Homo sapiens: one gene and its partners. The protein of the gene in region 3 purifies or fractionates together with the protein of the main gene of each other region. This does not show direct contact. Each region holds a gene or a part of one and is shown on either strand. Other genes may lie near its edges. The genes, in order: CD109, COCH and MMP19.

Region 1 (3,500 bases), on a different chromosome or scaffold from region 3:
TTGAATATCAGTAATGTTTACCACATGAAACTTTATATAACATGAAACAGATCTGCTTCAAATTTTCTCTTGGCCTTGGCCTGACTCAGGATATAGAACCATAAATAGAAAGCTTTCAGTGTTGTATTGCTTGATGTTCTTTTTACCTCAGTATAGTGTTTTGTAGCAGGGACTGGCAAACTTTTCTGTAAAGGGTCAGATTGTAAGTATTTCAGGCATTTTGGGCCACGTAGAGTCTCCGTTGCATGCTCTTCCCTCTTCCTCCCTCTCCTCCCTCTTTCTTTCCTGTCTTTGTCTTTTTCTTTTCCTTCTTTTAAAACCCGCTCTTAGGTGGTGGTGTTGGCAGGTGGGGGCTGGGTTGGTGCACACATAAACAGGCCCTGGGCTGTATTTGGCTTGAGGGCCAGATTTGGGCCAGGCAGATTTGGCCCACAGGCTGCAGTTGGCTAACTCCCATTCTATAGGAGAGAAAAATATCATTTTCCCCACCTGAAGTACTACAGTTTGCTTGTGAACTATGTATGCATTCTTCACCCACAGCTTTGGGGCTGACTGAAGCGTGTTGGAGCTCTTCTTTGGTAAATATCTAGAACAGTCCAAAGATGAATAACCTTGGACAATTTATTTAACTCTCTTGGACTGTCAGATTCTCAGTCTACAAAATAATGGAGCTGGATTCAACAGACACATTAAAAAATGCTCATCATCACTGGCCATCAGAGAAATGTAAATCAAAACCACAATGAGATACCATCTCACACCAGTTAGAATGGCGATCATTATAAAGGCAGGAAACAACAGGTGCTGGAGAAGTTGTGGAGAGATAGGAATACTTTTACACTGTTGGTGGGACCATAAACTAGTTCAACCATTGTGGAAGACAGTGTGGTGATTCCTCAAGGATCTAGAACTAGAAATACCATTTGACCCAGCTGTGGGGAAAAGAAAGAGAGATCAGATTGTTACCGTGTCTGTGTAGAAAGAAGTAGACATAGGAGACTCCATTTTGTTCTGTACTAAGAAAAATTCTTCTGCCTTGAGATGCTGTTAATCTGTAACCTTACCCCCAACCCTGAGCTCTCTGAAACATGTGCTGTGTCAACTCAGGGTTAAAGAATTAAGTGCTGTGCTTTAGATATGCATACACATAAACATCTCAATGCCTTAAAGAGCAGTATTGCTGCCCGCATGTCCCACCTCCAGCCCTAAGGCAGGTTTCCCCTATCTCAGTAGATGGAACATACAATCGGATTTTATACCGAGACATTCCATTGCCCAGGGACGGGCAGGAGACAGATGCCTTCCTCTTATCTCAACTGCAAAGAGGTGTTCCTTCTGCTTATACTAATCCTCCTCAGCACAGACCCTTTACGGGTGTTGGGCTGGGGGACGGTCAGGTCTTTCCCTTCCCACGAGGCCACATTTCAGACTATCACATGGGGAGAAACCTTGGACAATACCTGGCTTTCCTAGGCAGAGGTCCCTGCAGCCTTCCGCAGTGTTTGTGTCCCTGGGTACTTGAGATTAGGGAGTGGTGATGACTCTTAACGAGCATGCTGCCTTCAAGCATCTGTTTAACAAGGCACATCTTACACAGCCCTTAATCCATTTAACCCTGAGTTGACACAGCACATGTTTCAGAGGGCACGGGGTTGGGGGTAAGGTTACAGATTAACAGCATCTCAAGGCAGAAGAATTTTTCTTAGTACAGAACAAAATGGAGTCTCCTATGTCTACTTCTTTCTACACAGACACAGCAACAATCTGATCTCTCTTTCTTTTCCCCACACCCAGCCATCCCATTACTGGGTATATACCCAAAGGATTATAAATCATGCTGCTATAAAGACACATGCACACGTATGTTTATTGCGGCACTATTCACAATAGCAAAGACTTGGAACCAGCCCAAATGTCCATCAATGATAGACTGGATTAAGAAAATGTGGCACATATACACCATGGAATACTATGCAGCCATAAAAAAGGATGAGTTCATGTCCTTTGTAGGGACATGGATGAAGCTGGAAACCATCATTCTCAGCAAACTATCGCAAGGACAAAAAACCAAACACCACATGTTCTCACTCATAGGTGGAAATTGAACAATGAGAACACTTGGACACAGGAAGGGGAACATTACACACCGGGACCTGTTGTGGGGTGGGGGGATGGGGGAGGGATAGCATTAGGAGACATACCTAATGTAAATGACGCGTTAATGGGTGCAGCACACCAACATGGCACATGTACACATATGTAACAAACCTGCACGTTGTGCACATGTACCCTAGAACTTAAAGTATAATAAATAAAAATAAAATAAAATAAAATTAAATTAAAAAATGGAGCTGGATTAGATCATTTCTAAATTCCTTTTCAAATCTGAGATTTTTGAGTCAACATGGAATTTCTTGGCCAAGCCCAAGTGGAAACCAGTTCTGCCTGCTAGAGAGAGTTGCTTACCTTGTCCCTTTGCTCTTTCTTTTTTGATTTTTTTCTTTCCTTGTTCCATCTTCAGTGATTCCCCCTTTGATGAATCTTCTGATGGGGGAAAAAGTGTTGTTGTTTTGCTTGCTCGGTGTTATTTGGTGGACCTTATAAAGTGTATTTTATGTAATTTTTTTCTCTTTTCATAAAGGTTGTCAGCTTTTGTTTTAAGATGTTTCCTTGAAGCCGATCCTTACATAGATATTGATCAGAATGTGTTACACAGAACATACACTTGGCTTAAAGGACATCAGAAATCCAACGGTGAATTTTGGGATCCAGGAAGAGTGATTCATAGTGAGCTTCAAGGTGGCAATAAAAGTCCAGTAACACTTACAGCCTATATTGTAACTTCTCTCCTGGGATATAGAAAGTATCAGGTATTTCGTATTTAATTTAATAAATGATAGATGGGAAATTCAAGGAAGGTAGGTCTTAATGGGTCAAATATGTGTGTGGAAACTTAACAAGTTGCAGCTTTACAACACATGTGAAATCTGAATTTGAGTACTCTTTTGCTTTGCATTTGTGGCCATGTTCCAAAATCTGAGAATAAAACATTAACCCACTCTTTCAGAATAACTAAGAGAATTCTAAAAATGCTTTTTAATGTATGTATTGTACTTGCTATTGGTAAGATAAGTCAATACATGTTTTATCATTGAAAAAGTTAATTTCTGAGGGGAAAGAAAATTATTTAAAATTTGACAATGTGTTCTAGCAAGTTTAGATTGCAAAGGATTTTTTACTTATAAAACATCATGGAACAGTTACAATATCTGTTAATTTAGTGCTGAGAACACCCATACCCTGAAAAGTGTGTTGAATGGGCATGGATGCCTGGATGAGAATGAGTATGCGTGGAAAGGTATGCTGACGAGCTTAAGTTTGCTCCAGAGCTGTCCTGGTGATTGATGCCTTTACTGCTTACTGCCTGCTGCATTTTATGAGATCACCAAAGTCATTCTCTTTATTAGGACCCCCACTATTTTCCTATTCTACTAGTAGGC
Region 2 (3,725 bases), on a different chromosome or scaffold from region 3:
AAATTGGAAAACAACCTTGTGGCTTGCCAAAATCTGGAATGGTATGGAAGGGTATATAAGTCAATAGTCATAACTAGAAGTGTAGAAATTAGGGAAGTAAAACTTAAATCTCACACTGTAGTCTCCCCACCACTATGCCCCAAGAAGTCCTAAGAATGCTTACAATATTATCTCCTTTTTCTTCAGCTCCCATTGCTATCACATGTTTTACCAGAGGCTTGGACATCAGGAAAGAGAAAGCAGATGTCCTCTGCCCAGGGGGCTGCCCTCTTGAGGAATTCTCTGTGTATGGGAACATAGTATATGCTTCTGTATCGAGCATATGTGGGGCTGCTGTCCACAGGTAAGCCCAAACACACCAGGGTGGGAGAGAAATGCAGACGTGATTATTTCCTTTCCTGCTTTACCCATCTGGATCCCTTTCCTCCCTGCATTCTTTCTTTTGTTGCCATTGTGGCCACAGAAAATGGATATATTTTCACGGTTCTCCTGGATATACTTGAAACACCAAATACACATGGAAAGCTTTCTGACAAAAGGCAAATAGCATTACCTCTTGATGGCTAGATTGCTATGATTCCAAAACATTCCTAATCATGTGATATATTACTGAGTTATTACTATGTGCCACCTATTGTTTTAACTTCCACCACAACTCTACAAGGTAGGTAGAATTTTACTCCAGTTACAGATGAAGAAACTGAACTCAGAGAGTTGTCAAGTATCTTGCCCAAGGTGACTATTGTTAGCAAGTGCCATGCTATCCTGTAGTAGAATAGCCAGTATAATACTTCTAAAAAAATTCAGTCCAAAGGCATGTAGCTAAAGTGAGTATCTTAGGAAAATTGTTTGGTGCTCTGAATTTCTAAGTTGTGGGTAATGGGATATTACAAATGTGTTCTTATCAACACTTAAGAAGTTCAACAGCACAAAACCATTTTTTTCCAGGCAAATTTTGTTCTTGTGTAAGCAAGTTTTTAAAAGGCTAGCAGCAGCTGGGAGTGGTGGCTCACACCTGTAATCCCACCACTTTGGGAGGCTGAGGCGGATGGACCACTTGAGGTCAGGAGTTCGAGACCTAGCCAACATGGTGAAACCCTGTCTCTACTAAAAATACAAAAATTAGCCAGGTATGGTGGTGCATGCCTGTAATCCCAGCTACTTGGGAGGCTGAGGCAGGAGAATCACTTGAATCCTGGAGGTGGAGGTTGCAGTGAGCCGAGATCGCGCCACTGCACTCCATCCTGGGCTACAGAGCGAGACGCCATCAAATAAATAAATAAATAAAGCAGAATCTTTAGATGACTTCCCTGATGAGCTATTTTCTTGATTAATCAAAGCAATAGATACAACATGGCACTATAAGTCAGTGGGATGCCCTGAAAAAGTGTGGATAGCATCTCAGCTGCTATTCTTGTGTTACAGGGGAGTAATCAGCAACTCAGGGGGACCTGTACGAGTCTATAGCCTACCTGGTCGAGAAAACTATTCCTCAGTAGATGCCAATGGCATCCAGTCTCAAATGCTTTCTAGATGGTCTGCTTCTTTCACAGTAACTAGTAGGTATAATTATTGTTCTCATTCTGTAATATTCTCCCACCCCCCAAACGTTTTCTGCTTTTTTTAGCTCAGCCTCTTTAACCTTGATGGAAAAACCTGTGATCAAGACTAAAGCTGACCTATAGAGGTAAACTGTAGGTTAGACTGAGGGGTCAAGTACCCACTGAAGCCAAATTTGGGTGAATAGAAGACAATCTTACTGACAGATGATGGCAATAGAAACTTGAATTATTTGCAGTCAGAATGCCCGGACACTTACCAAGGAACTGAAAAACTACTAAATACATTTTTGATGATCCTTTGAAGATATAATGGATAAGCATTTTGGTTCTCTGAAACTAGCATGCAGCAGGATGTTTGTAACTACAATCACCATTACCCTATTACATTTGTCATTGTAGAGAGCTCTAAATTAGATTCATAATACTTTGGTAAAGAAGGAAAAGGAAAAAAATAAGCTTATTTTTATTTTAACAGAAGGCAAAAGTAGTACACAGGAGGCCACAGGACAAGCAGTGTCCACAGCACATCCACCAACAGGTATGAACTATGAAACCTATCTCCTAGTTGCCCGGCACAGCATTTGGAAGTTATGAATAAACGTGTTGTTGGTAGAAGCTTTTCTTAAAGAAATTTGATATTAAAGAGAAACAAAGCAAATACCTTAAGTTTACTGGTATATTACATATGGAAACATTCATTATGTGTATATTTTAAAGACAGGGTCTCACTCTGTTGCTCAGGCTGGAGTACAGTGGTGCAATCATAGCTCACTGCAGCCTTAACCTCCTAGGCTCAAGCAATCTTCTCACCTTGGCCTCCTGAGTAGGTGGTACTACAGGCACATGCCACCACACCCAGCCAATTTTTTTGATTTTTAATTTTTTTTATTTTTATTTTTTTAGACAGGTCTAGCTATGATGCCCAGGCTGGTTTTGAACTCCTGACCTCAGGCAGTCCTCCCACTTCAGCCTCCCAAAGTTCAGGGATTACAGGCATGAGCCACTGCACCCAGCCTAATAATTCTCTAAAAGTCCTATTTTCTCCCAGATTTGATAAACCACGCCTAAGAACTGGTCAAAGTACCATGAACTTCTAGTTCCATTTGCTTCATTAAATTCCTTTAATTACTGCACTGTCATGTGACTAAAAGGAATGTGTGTCTATTGTAAGAAATAGCCAGGGATCCCCTTTTGTATGACGATGGCAGTTTTAAAGTCAAAGATATTAAGAACATTAGGATTTAATGTTGAGTTCCTGCCTCACCTGTGGGTTTGGGGTATTAAAGTCCTGGATTAGGGCATATCAAATATGTAGGCCTACATACTGATTTGTTTATTTGTTGGGTCATTGCTTTCCCTAGTCCAGAAAATCCTGAGGAAATTAATTTTTTTAAAAAAGTCCTTTCAAGAATGGCACTCTGTTGTTATGAGCTTCTCCCCATGTGGGTTTCTTGCTATGTAACTGTCTTCCTTTTGTTAATGCCAAGTGCATCTTTTATTTCAGGTAAACGACTAAAGAAAACACCCGAGAAGAAAACTGGCAATAAAGGTAAGAATCAAGATCTCCATTTGGGAAGGTAGCATTTTCCCTCCCTCCTCTTGAGACTGCTAATGAGGGGACTGGTTTGGTTGTTCGCAGATTGTAAAGCAGACATTGCATTTCTGATTGATGGAAGCTTTAATATTGGGCAGCGCCGATTTAATTTACAGAAGAATTTTGTTGGAAAAGTGGCTCTAATGTTGGGAATTGGAACAGAAGGACCACATGTGGGCCTTGTTCAAGCCAGGTACCAACCTTGTTAAAATGGGAGATTTAAAAAAAAAATTATTTTGTAATTGACACATAATAATTATATATACTTATGGGGTACATAGTGATGTTTTCATACATACAATGTATAGTGGTCAAATCAGAGTAATTAGCATATCCATCACCTCAAACATTGATCATTTCTTTGTGTTGGATACATTCAAAATCAAATGAGGCCGGGTGCAGTGGCTCACGCCTGTAATTCCAGCACTTTGGAGGCCAAGTGGGTGTGTGGATCACCTGAGGTCAGGAGTTCAAAACCAGTCTGGCCAACATGTGAAACACCGTCTCTACTAAAAATACAAAAATTAGCCAGATGTGGTGGCATGCACCTGTAATCCTAGCTACTTGGG
Region 3 (4,444 bases):
TCACTGCAATCTCCGCCTCCCCAGTTCAAGCAATTCTCCTGCCTCAGTCTCCCGAGTAGCTGGGATTACAGGCGCATGCCATCACGCCTGGCTAATTTTTGTATTTTTAGTAGAGACAAGATTTTGCTATGTTGGCCAGGCTAGTCTCAAACTCCTGACCTCATGGTCCGCCCACCTCAGCCTCCGAAAGTGCTGGGATTACAGACGTGAGCCACTGCTCCCGTCCGGTATTTTTAAATGTAAGTTTTTCTTCTTTTCCTTGCATAGCATTTAAGGCCCTCTCCAAATTCTGTCTCCCAACCACTTTCCCACCCTGGTCATTCTTTGACAGTGATTTATTAAGCACAGCCTCGAAAGCATGGAGGTGGCCTGGGGTAGGCACTCGGGCTTCAGTGGTGAATGAAGCAGTCGTGACCCTTCTGACTTACTGAGTACAGCAGTCTCTCAGCTCTGCACTTTTACTCAAGACCTGCACTGTCTGTCTCTCAGTATCCTTTTACCCTATCAATTCTTTTTTTTTTTGAGATGGAGTTTTTGCTCTGTTGCCCAGGCTGGAGTGCAATGGTGTGATCTCAGCTCACTGCAACCTCTGCCTCCTGGGTTCACGTGATTCTCCTGCCTCAGCCTGCCGAGTAGCTGGGATTACAGGCGCCCGCCACCATACCTGGCTAATTTTTGTATTTTTAGTAGAAACAAGGTTTCACCATGTTGGTCAGGCTGGTTTCGAACTCTTGATCTCAAGTGATTCACCCACCTCAGCCTTTCAAAGTGCTAGGATTACAGGAGCGAGCCACCATGCCTGGCCTTACCCCATCAATTCTTAGCTGGCCTTCAAAGCCCATCTCAAAGCCTGACTTCTCAGCAAACCTCCCCCCAGCCCCAAGCCCCTTAGGGTGAATCACCTCTGGCCTGGCACGCTGGCTCCCCTCTTCCCAGGTGTCTGGATCTGCCTCACTGGATCCGTAAGCTCCCTGAGGGTAGGCTCTGGGCCCTTTACTTATTTGTGCCCTTGTTAAGTCCCACCTACACCCACATATTCCAGGCTCATTAGATTCTTGAAATAATGACTTTTTATTAAAGCAGACATAAGTAGGTTGCAGGAGCATCTATATTCCCAACTTGGTCTTGGGTACAAAGAAACTGAGACTTCACGCTTGACTCCTTCACCTGAAACCCAAGCTACCTCAGCTGTTTCCTACCTCTCAGCTTATTCTAGGGAGACTCAAAGGTAGGGGCGGAGTGATTTGCTGGCCCAGGGTCCCTGAGGCACATTGATGTCTAATTCCAGGGGATGTCCATGATCCCTATCTCTAGTCTCTCCAGAGATTCTGGTTCTCGTCCTGCCTGGATGCTCACCCTAGGGCAGTATGAAGTTTTTCCATCTCCAGCAGAGGACTCTGAGGGAAGCGATTGGGAACTCTCTTTGGCTTCCGCTCTCTGGTAGGGCAAGGGTTAATGGTGAATTGCAACATATCTCTTGGCTGAGTCACCTCCCTCTGCCTCTCCCCCAAATTCCCCTCAGCTGTTATAAAGAGGACTAGAGGCTGGAGAGTAAAAAGAACTGGGGGTAAGAGCCCCTCTGCCTAGCACTGCTCCCCCAAGGCTCCCAGAAATCTCAGGTCAGAGGCACGGACAGCCTCTGGAGCTCTCGTCTGGTGGGACCATGAACTGCCAGCAGCTGTGGCTGGGCTTCCTACTCCCCATGACAGTCTCAGGCCGGGTCCTGGGGCTTGCAGAGGTGGCGCCTGTGGTAAGTCCCCCAAGAAAGAGACCTGGGCCAGCGGAGGGACAGGGGTTACTGCTCCACAGCCCCATCGAAGCCTCCCTCCTGACCTTCAGCCTGCCTGCCTTTCCCTTGCTCTCTCTGCCCCATGGTCTACCCTGCCCATCTCCCGCTGCTTCCCCTTGTTCCACCTGAGCCCCTTCTCTAAGGTGCTTCTCCATTAGTGCTTCCATATCAGGTCCCTCCTCTCCTGATGGATCTGTTAGGTCACTTAGAAGCTTTACTCTGAGACTAACCCCCTTTTAACCTGCTTACCTCCACTCCCATCATAGGACTACCTGTCACAATATGGGTACCTACAGAAGCCTCTAGAAGGATCTAATAACTTCAAGCCAGAAGATATCACCGAGGCTCTGAGGTGAGAAGCTATGAGGTGTATGCCTTTAGGGCTAAGGTCTCAAGGTCTTCTTCCTTCTCATCCCTTCCTCTCCCCAGGCCCACCTCCTCCTGACCCTAAACCATGCCAGGGATTTAGAGATGGGTGGCGATCATTATTATGGTGGTGGGGCATGGGGTGAGATGGGGATTCACAGATGAGGAATACAGGCATTGGATCTTCCTAGGCCATAAGCATTCCTTTGGAGTCTCTACCCACATCATATCTCAAATACTAATATTTAGTTATAGTCCACATAAAGTGTAATGATATGTAAAACTGAGTTGAGTTGTTGACATGCTATTACCTTTTGTGGGCCTTCAATTTGGTACTTATTTATTTCTATTTTATAGTTTTATATGTTGATGTAATGGATTATTTTTCTTTCTGCTCTCAGATATGTTCAGGTCCCTTGAAAAGCCCCTAGGCCCTATGACAGTCCATAGATGGATGAAATTGCTCCAGGGCAAGCTGGGCTGGGACGGGTATCCATTCAGGAAGGGAGAAGGCTGAAGGAGGACAGGCTGTCAGGTGGGAGCACTAGTGGAAAGCTCTCCAGAGCAGGGGAGCCAGACACCTCCACAGAGTAGGAGAAGGTTAGAAATTGCAGTAGAGGGGCTGGGCATGGTGGCTCACGCCTGTAATCCCAGCACTTTGGGAGATCCAGGCAGGGGGATTGCTTGAGCCCAGAAGTTTGACAGCAACCTGGGCAACATAATGAGACCCCATCTCTACCAAAAAAGAAAGAAAGGAAGAAAGAAAGAGAGAAGAAAAAGAAAGGAAGGAAGGAAGGAAGGAAGGAAGGAAGGAAGGAAGGAAGGAAGATTGCAGTAGAGGAGGAAGGCTACACCTGAGGGCAAACTTACTCAAATAAAAGACACTGAAAATGGGGAGATGAAGCTGGAGTATCTCCATTTCTGCAGAACAGAAGAGAAAGTCCCAGTTATGAGGACTGGAGGCTGGAGTAACCCTGTCAGCTTCAGGGATTCTGTGCTATTCTTGGCCATGAACTTGGGCAGCAGGAAGTCAAAGAGCAATCATCTCCCAGTCATTTCAGATTTTCCTGTCCTGGTAGACCCATCCCTCTCCCTCCTTCAGAGCTTTTCAGGAAGCATCTGAACTTCCAGTCTCAGGTCAGCTGGATGATGCCACAAGGGCCCGCATGAGGCAGCCTCGTTGTGGCCTAGAGGATCCCTTCAACCAGAAGACCCTTAAATACCTGTTGCTGGGTGAGAACAGAGCCTGGAAAAGAGAGGGAGAGGAGGGGGTGATGTGGTTCTGGCGTGTGGGTGGCATTAGGACAGTCTGGACCAGCTCAGTGTTGAATAGATAATCACCTGGTGATTACCTGGTTGTCACCTGTCTTGGGGGTTGAGTGCCTAAACCCAGAGGAGCTCTCTGGGGTTGGCAGAAGGATCTGTATTTCTAATCTGTTTTCTGGTCATTAACTAGGCCGCTGGAGAAAGAAGCACCTGACTTTCCGCATCTTGAACCTGCCCTCCACCCTTCCACCCCACACAGCCCGGGCAGCCCTGCGTCAAGCCTTCCAGGACTGGAGCAATGTGGCTCCCTTGACCTTCCAAGAGGTGCAGGCTGGTGCGGCTGACATCCGCCTCTCCTTCCATGGCCGCCAAAGCTCGTACTGTTCCAATACTTTTGATGGGCCTGGTAGGCAACAGTTCTCAGTTCCCACCTCATAGACCTCTGAGATTACCTCTGTCTCCTTGAACCAGTGACTCTAGAACCTTGATGTTTGGGCTGCTCTTTATCCCACCTGCACCATACGCTCTCTAATTACCTCCTAACGGGAGCACGGGCGCAGTTGGTCATCTACATGGAGCCTCCTGTTTGAAACTTCCTCCCTCCCTCCCTTCCTTCTCTCCTTCTCTCTCCTTCCCTCCCTCCCTTCCTTCTCTCCCTCCCTCCCTTCCTTCTCTCCTTCTCTCTCTCCCTCCCTCCCTCCCTTCCTTCCTTCTCTCCCTCCCTCCCTCCCTCCCTTCTTTCCTTCCTCTCTCTTGCTTGCTTGACAGTCTCACTCTGTTGCCCAGACTGGAGTACAGTGACACAATCATGGCTCACTGCAGCCTCAACCTCCCAGGCTCAAGTGATCCTCCCGCCTCAGCCTCCCAGGTAGAGACTACAGGCAAACACTACCACACCTGGCTAATTTTTGTAGAGATGAAGTTTTGCTATGTTGCCCAGGCTGGTCTTAAACTCCTGTACTCAAGCAATCCTCCTGCCTTGGCCTCTGAAAGTGTTGGGATTACAGGTGTGAGCCATCACCC

The links.
Region 1: the proteins of MMP19 (region 3) and CD109 purify together in Homo sapiens (affinity purification with mass spectrometry; one large-scale study listed by BioGRID and IntAct). This does not show direct contact.
Region 2: the proteins of MMP19 (region 3) and COCH purify together in Homo sapiens (affinity purification with mass spectrometry; one large-scale study listed by BioGRID and IntAct). This does not show direct contact.

Annotation. Positions count from the first base shown.
Region 1 is NC_000006.12:73,804,203-73,807,702, forward strand, and holds part of CD109 (CD109 antigen isoform 1 preproprotein), read left to right. Parts: intron 1-2,641; coding exon 2,642-2,870; intron 2,871-3,500. UniProt on the Homo sapiens protein: Modulates negatively TGFB1 signaling in keratinocytes.
Region 2 is NC_000014.9:30,877,386-30,881,110, forward strand, and holds part of COCH (cochlin isoform b precursor), read left to right. Parts: intron 1-186; coding exon 187-343; intron 344-1,425; coding exon 1,426-1,559; intron 1,560-2,037; coding exon 2,038-2,100; intron 2,101-3,066; coding exon 3,067-3,111; intron 3,112-3,201; coding exon 3,202-3,349; intron 3,350-3,725. UniProt on the Homo sapiens protein: Plays a role in the control of cell shape and motility in the trabecular meshwork.
Region 3 is NC_000012.12:55,840,050-55,844,493, reverse strand, and holds the start of MMP19 (matrix metalloproteinase-19 isoform 1 preproprotein), read left to right. Parts: upstream 1-1,557; 5' UTR 1,558-1,663; coding exon 1,664-1,750; intron 1,751-2,055; coding exon 2,056-2,141; intron 2,142-3,257; coding exon 3,258-3,388; intron 3,389-3,611; coding exon 3,612-3,827; intron 3,828-4,444. UniProt on the Homo sapiens protein: Endopeptidase that degrades various components of the extracellular matrix, such as aggrecan and cartilage oligomeric matrix protein (comp), during development, haemostasis and pathological conditions (arthritic disease).